2 linked regions of the Homo sapiens genome follow. The protein of the gene in region 1 interacts with the protein of each later gene in a pairwise test. Each region holds a gene or a part of one and is shown on either strand. Other genes may lie near its edges. The genes, in order: MAFK and BACH2.

Region 1 (3,159 bases):
GTGGCGGGCGGCGGGCGGCGGGCAGGCGGGTGGGGGCACACCCCTCGTACCTGTCACTGGGATGCAGACTCTCGACATCCGAGTCCAAGCGCAGGCCCCTCGGGCGCAGGCAGCTCACACCAGGAAGAGACTGTATTGCAGGGTGAAGAGTGGGCTCCCGTGGGCCCAGAGCTGCACGCCGGTCCACAGACACACTCACGCCCGCCACCTGCTCCCCGCAGGATGTGTCTGTGTGTGGGAATTGGTATCTTGCACCCGTGGGAGTCGGGACATATAATGGAAAGGCCCTCGGGAAGTTCCGCGTCCTCTGTGGGGGCTGCCGGAAGACACGGCCCCAGGAGTCAGGCCCCTGTGGTCAGGTCTAGCATGGGGCTTGTTTTCCACTCCTGCTGTAAGCAGCCTTCGACACCTGTCCTGCCACGGCCTCCCAGCCGGTGCGGGAGCCCCTCACTGCCCTGACCGACTCCGCAGTCCCCGGGGAGGAGCATGGATGGTGTGTCGGCAGCTCCGTCCTTCCAGCTGTCCCGTTGCAGTGCCCGTGATCCGCGTCTGCCTTAGCAGGGGCCTGCGTGAGTGGGCACGGTGTGGGAGGTCGCCTGCGTGGGGTGGTGTCTGTGTGTGTGCACGCACGCCTGCCATCAAAGCAGCAGGGCTGAGGGGGTGCAGCTTGCTGGTGTTCACTGGGGGAGGGCCTGTGGGCACACATGGCAGAGAGAGTGGCTCACACGTCGTGAGGTCTCCCCTGTGCTCTGGTGACCCGAGGAGGTCGTGCAGCACAGCGCAGAAGCCCCTGCCCACGGGATCCGGCCCCCCAGACACCGACCCCACAGGCCGTCCCGGATCTCAGCGGACACAGGCAGGAGCGCCCCATCATTTGACGGTGAGCAGGACTCAGGCTGTGTGTCCTGGAGCTACTTCTCACCAACTGTGGTCAGTGCAGGGGGAACGAGGAGGTCTTTTGGGGGCCTGGCGAGGGGAAGGGCTGCTGCAGTCTAGGGAGAGGGGGTGCAGCCTGGGGGATGTTGGTGGACATGGATGTGGAGGTGGAAGGAGGAGGACGTTGCGTGGAGTGGTGGGAGGAGGCGGGAGCCGTGTGCGAGAGCAGGTGGAAAGCCTTGAGGGGCAGGACCAGGATGCAGCTGGCTTGTAGAAGAGCTCAGGAGTGAGCCTGGCACTCCAGAGGGCGCGGCGGGTGGGGAGGCAGCAGGCACCAGTCCAGGAGAGCTTCGTGGACGTGGCTCCTGCGCGCACACCCCCAGGAGCACAGCCACGGGCTGCAGGTGTGGCTGGCCTCAGCACTCAGTCCTCACCCGGAGCCTTTGCCTGCTCCTCCTTCCAAGAGCACTGAGGCACCAGTGGGCTTGGCACTCCACCTTGGGCTTCCTTTTCCTGGAGAGCCGCCTTGAGGGTCCCTCCTGTGACTGGGGTCTCTGCAGCGAGAGCCGCGGGGGTTGCGGAGCCCCTGCCTGGGGGAGCTGGCGGAATGTGAGCCGCCGGCCGGGGGCCGCCACATAAGACCTGCAAGGTGGTGCCTGGGGCCCTGGCTCCTTCTCGGCTGCCCCTGCCCACCCAGTAACAGCCCCCACCAGCTACAGAGCCCAGGCGGGTGCCAGCCACGCTGGGAGGGCAGAGGACAGACAGCCCCGGGGCTGCGACTTGGTTCTGTGTCTACTGTTAGAAGTTGAGTGGGAAGCTGCAGGCCCGCCAGGACCACTGGGTCCCTACAGAGCAAAGGCCTGCGTGTTCCCAAACAGCCGTTGCCCCCGTGGCCGTGGTAGGTAATCCATATTGGATGTCATAAGGACCAGGGGGATATTTAAAGAGAGAAACAGAAAATATATAGAGATATAAAATTATATTCACAGTTTATCTACAGATTTTTCGTAACAATCTTTCTTTTCCAGTTTGATACTGTAAATCTATCAGAGCAGAGCCGGGGGCACGGGCACAGGTGGGAGTTGGGAGCAAAGCGGAGGCCCGGGCTGCCCGCCGTCCCCCTTCATCTCCCCACGGACTGTACCAGGCAGCTGGGCCCCGCAGGACAGGCCGCAGCGGGTGGCCGGTTCTGTCCCGTCTTGGGGTTCTTGGTGTCCACGTCTTGTGGGCCGTGGGCTTCTACCTGCCCTTGGCCTGCAGTGCTTTGCTGGAGAAGGGACTCCCTGGTCCCCAGGGTGGACGGAGCCGCTGTCACCGCCCAGAGCTGGGCCGGGGAAGCACGGTGTGTTCTGCTTTTCTTTTCAGATTGTTGAAATTTCATTGTCATGATTTAATATATGGATTTTTTTATTTAAGAAAAAGACGAGGGACTCTTTGTCACGTGGGTTTGTTTTCTGTCTCCGTGCCTCCGGCTTCCCAAAGAGATCCAGGTCTTTGCGTTTCCAGGGCGTGGGGACCCCGGCCCCCTATGCCGCCACGCCGCCACACCGCCTCACCCTGGCTTCTGTGCTACTTGGCAGTTCCATTTCATTATTTATTTTTTGTGCTGCTTTTTATCATGATATAAATTATTGAAAACAGATCACATGTGGGCCCGTGTCTGGCCGCCGCCGCCCTGCCCCGTCCCTGCGGCCACCACCTAATTTATTGCCGTGCGTCCTGCTGCTGTGACTGCTTTTGTACCTTTGCAATAAAGAATTTTCTGGTTTCAGACCCTTTCGTTGCGTAGCTGGTGCTTTCAGCTGGGGCTTTCTTGGGCCAAGAACCACACCCCCCCCCCAATCCCAGGGGACCCTGCCTGTCCCTCACCGGGGTCAGGATCCGGGCACTACGTGTAAGTGGCTTTCCCGGACTGCTGGGCCGTGACCGTGAGGCTGGGACAGCCACGGGGGAGGTGCTGGTCAGGTGACCACGTCCTGGGCTCAGTCTCTGAGGGTCAGGCCGCAGTCCTGAGTGTCCCCATCTGCCCCACCCGGAGCCCCCTGTCCATGCAGCCTCTCCCTTCCAGTGGAAGGAGCAGAGAGCAGCACGGCTGTCAGTGTTCCCCTTCCCTGGGAGACATCTCGCCCAGCTTTGCTGGACTCTCAGAGGAGCCTGCAGGAAGCTGTGAGCAAGACAGGGTCTGTCTGGGAGCAGAGAGCAAAGCGCCCCTGCACAGTGGCCGGAAGCCCGTGGACTCCTCCGAAAAGCCACGGGCCTGCCCGCATGCCGTCCCCACCCCGC
Region 2 (3,817 bases), on another chromosome or scaffold:
CCTCTGGCTGCTGTGTAAGGGGCTTAATTATTTGCAAACTGCCTTGAAATCCCTGGATGAAAGGCACTGAATAAGTGCACAGTATTGTTATTCAGATATGGAATTTAATGATCCATTATAGTTCATCAGGAAAATGCACTTTGCAGTGATGGTAGGAAATGTTTCCACCTGATAGAGGGTAATAATAACTGCTTAAAAGTAGATTCAGATTACAGATGAGACAATTAACTCTAGCCATGTGCTCTTCAATTTGTTGCAATTCATTTTGTGATCAAAGTGAGTCACAGAGGGCCAGATGGTCAGGTTCATGTTCAGATCTCTCCTAGGCCAGCCCTTCACTTCTGGGCCCACTGTCTGCACAGCCGACAGGACTTAGTTATTCATTAGCGCTTGTGAGCTGTTTCTCAGAATTCCTAATCGAGGCTCCTGTGATGCCAACAAAAGGGCTCAAGCCAATCTGTATTGTTGAGAGCAGTTTAATTTTACTTGGATTAACTTTCAGTGTCTCTGGTGTGGATCCAGTCTTAACAAAAAGGAAAGAGACCCTAGTGGCTCTCTATCTCTGCTGTGCCTGGCCCCTCTACTCTAGTTTTTGAACCTCAGATTTCAGGGGTGTGACATCTAGCTTATTGTAAATGCAGGCTTGATTGTTAATGAATGAGAGAATACTTAGATAAATAAATATCTTCCTGTGTGTCCAGGGGGTGAGAGCCAGTACTAGCTTCATGGGCATAAGACCTGTGCAGTTACATAGGCCCCCTTCCTCTTCCCTGCTCAGAAGGACCTCATATTTGGTATAAGGTTCTGCTGTTTTCTTCGGAAATTCTTAATAATTTTTGAACAAAGGGCCCCTCGTTTTCATTTTTCACTGAGCCCTGCAAATTATGTACTTACCTGGTTCTGGTGAGGAGCAGGGCATAGTGTGGAGTGGCAGGCCGCCCCTACTCAACTCATTGTAGACTCTTGCTAGGGAACAGTTGGTAGGACTACTGGCTTTGTGTTGCCACATCATTTGATTTTTCCAGGGGAAGCTGAATATTGGATATTTATGTGGAATTTCCTGATTTTTAAATATTGGCTCAAATCTTTAAAAAATTTTTGGATGAAAGCATATGTAAGAGCTAGTGTCGGCCTGGGGGCTGCTTGTCTCCCACTACTGAACAGACTGAAACATCTTTTTTTGTTTAATATCTTTGTGTGTCTCTGTTTTCTAAAGGCCTGGCATATAGTGGATGATTTGTGAGTATGCACCCAATGAATGGTTACAACTACCTGGAAAATAGAAAGATGCCAAAAAAACAAAACTTCAAATCAACATTGAGTCCCACTCAGGGATTGATCAGCTTCCTTTTTAACAGAGAATTCGACATGAAAGGCCGAATAATTTAATACCATGAGTACAGTGTGATTCCTTGCAGGTGAATAATCCATTACTTTTGAACCACCTGCCCTCTATTTAGTTGTTACTGACCAGATGGGGTAACTTGGCTGGGTAATGCCTGAGGACCTCCATGGGAGTTTGACATTTGAGAACACTCACCAAAATAATAGTTTTGATTTACTGAATCCGCACCATGTGCCAGACCCAGTGCTGACTACCTTGCCTGAATGTACTTCATTGATTCCTCAAAGCAACCCTTTGAAGTAGGTGTCGTGCCTGCCCATTCTGCAGAGTTGGAAGAACTAATCTCATGTTGGAATGAACTTAATCTGAATATAGTGCATGTTTTCTTGAATGTCTGAAGGTTATTTCCCCATTCCATTACACAGTCCAGTCCTGAATCAATGACTGGGCATGGTGTAGGACTGTGACATACAGAGAACATGGTCCCTGCCCTCACATAGAACAGAGAACAATATAAAATGTAACATATTTGTCAAAATCTGCAATTCAGATAGCAGACGCTGTAAATCTGCCTCCCTGTTTTTCTCCTTTCCCTGTCTGGATGTTGAAGAAGTTTCAGCGACATATGACCCTGTCAGAGGTACTCACAGTTCAGAAGTCAATGCTGGTTGCAAAAATTGGAATTTCTTTGGAAAAGAAGACAAGCTTTTGGCAGAGCTGGGGCCACATATGGGAACGCAGCACCAAGGCCTTGGGAATGACGGAAAATCGCTTCTGTATTGTTAATAGCAATATATGACCTCTGCTGTCCTCCTATCTTTAAATTTTATGTAAATATTTACAAACTGTTCATGTCCAAACTGAAACCTGCTATGAACTAAACATTTTGTAAACTCAGTAAGATTGCCCAAAATACAACTCAACTTTCACCTTTTTTTTTTTGTTTGTGATGACATTTAATTTAAAAAAAAAAGACAGTAGTTGCTTTTTTTTTTCTTTTTTTTTGTCAGTTCAGGGTCTTTTAATTTTTTCCCTTTACTTTTTTTTTTGTTAATTTCAAATGTCAGTCTATCTAAAACTGAAACTTAATTTTACTATCAGCATGCTACTCAGCTTCCGTAAGGCTGGAAATGTCCTGCGAATCTTACCACTATGTCTTTTCCAAGGGCCATTTCATTTCTAAAGAATGTATAAATTGAACCTCATCCTGCTAGTGACACTACTTCAAAATTCAGGCAGGAATTTTGCCATTTGTTTTTCCTTGAGCTATTTTTTTTCCAAAATAATAAATCTTCCCAATCCAAAAGCATTTCACATCATCCTTCATTCTAGTCATTGGAACTACAGCCAAAATGCCTCTCAGTCTTCCCCAGTGACTTCATAATCACCGTTTCTTCAGCATATTCCCTGGTTGACTTCTCCTTTGTTCCTTAGCCTCATAATGAATTGCCCTTTGGTTCTGAGATGTGTCATTTTCCTCCCTGACCTTTTTGTTCTTTTCCTGAAGGCTGTAGGACATGCTGCTGCTGATGTGATGAGAGCCGGCGCTTGGTTGCTAGGTCCCTCCTGTCCTTGTGTCAGCTTTCATTGGCTCCTTTCCTAAGCATTTAAATCCTCCACTTTCCAGTCCTCCCATTCATCTCATTATTCTCTTCATGTGTGCCTGAGCCTGTAGCTGGCATGTAGACAAAGTCCCAGTTAGTTAGAAGAAAGCTTTTCGAGTTTCCAAGTCTTCCATCACTCTAGTCTTGGGCCATCTTCTATTCTCCCTCCCCTGTCACTTTCTGCAGATACTTCAGGAATTTCCTCAAGACTTTCCAGGAGTCTAACCCAAAGACAGCTTAGACCTTCACTTCGGATTTTAAAGTTGGGAGATCCCAATGTGATGATTTCCATTCCACAAGTAGGAAACAAAGTGAATGTACATGCTCAGCATCTTTCCTTAGTATTTCAGTATCCATAGATTTTTGGCAATTTTTCTTTTTTTCCTATCCTGTATTCTTCTAAGCAACAGAAGCTCGTGGATAGTGCAAAATGGGCCAAGTGTCCAGAAATACTGTTGCTTAGAGGCAGATGCCTCATTCATTCATTAAACAAATATATACTGAGTATCTCTTACATGGCAGGCATAGTGTTAAGTGACCACAGTGCTAATGGGGAGCAAACCCAGTCCTGGCCCCTGGTCTCATGAAGCACGTCATCTGGTAGGAAGAATGGCACTGATCAGTTAGTAACAGATAACCCACTGCTCGTGAAGGAAAGTATTTCATACACCAGAGTGTCTAATGGGCAGATTTAACCTGGTCGGGAGGTTGGGGAAGCCCTCCCTGAGGAATTGTGGAGTGACCTTCCATCAGGGACAGTCTGAAACTTGAGATTCACTTTTTCTCCAGCTTCCTAATCCTATTAATTCACTACTATCTTTGGCCCTTTGGAGTATTGCCTAAGCCATGCTGGAACCTCTGGGGCCAT

Evidence for each region.
Region 2: the proteins of MAFK (region 1) and BACH2 interact in binary tests that used the Homo sapiens proteins (3 or more experiments, as listed by UniProt).

What each region holds. Positions count from the first base shown.
Region 1 is NC_000007.14:1,540,395-1,543,553, forward strand, and holds the end of MAFK (transcription factor MafK), read left to right. Parts: 3' UTR 1-2,649; downstream 2,650-3,159. UniProt on the Homo sapiens protein: Since they lack a putative transactivation domain, the small Mafs behave as transcriptional repressors when they dimerize among themselves.
Region 2 is NC_000006.12:90,290,084-90,293,900, reverse strand, and holds part of BACH2 (transcription regulator protein BACH2), read left to right. Parts: exon of another isoform or gene 1-1,418; intron 1,419-1,955; exon of another isoform or gene 1,956-2,651; intron 2,652-3,817. UniProt on the Homo sapiens protein: Transcriptional regulator that acts as a repressor or activator. Binds to Maf recognition elements (MARE). Plays an important role in coordinating transcription activation and repression by MAFK.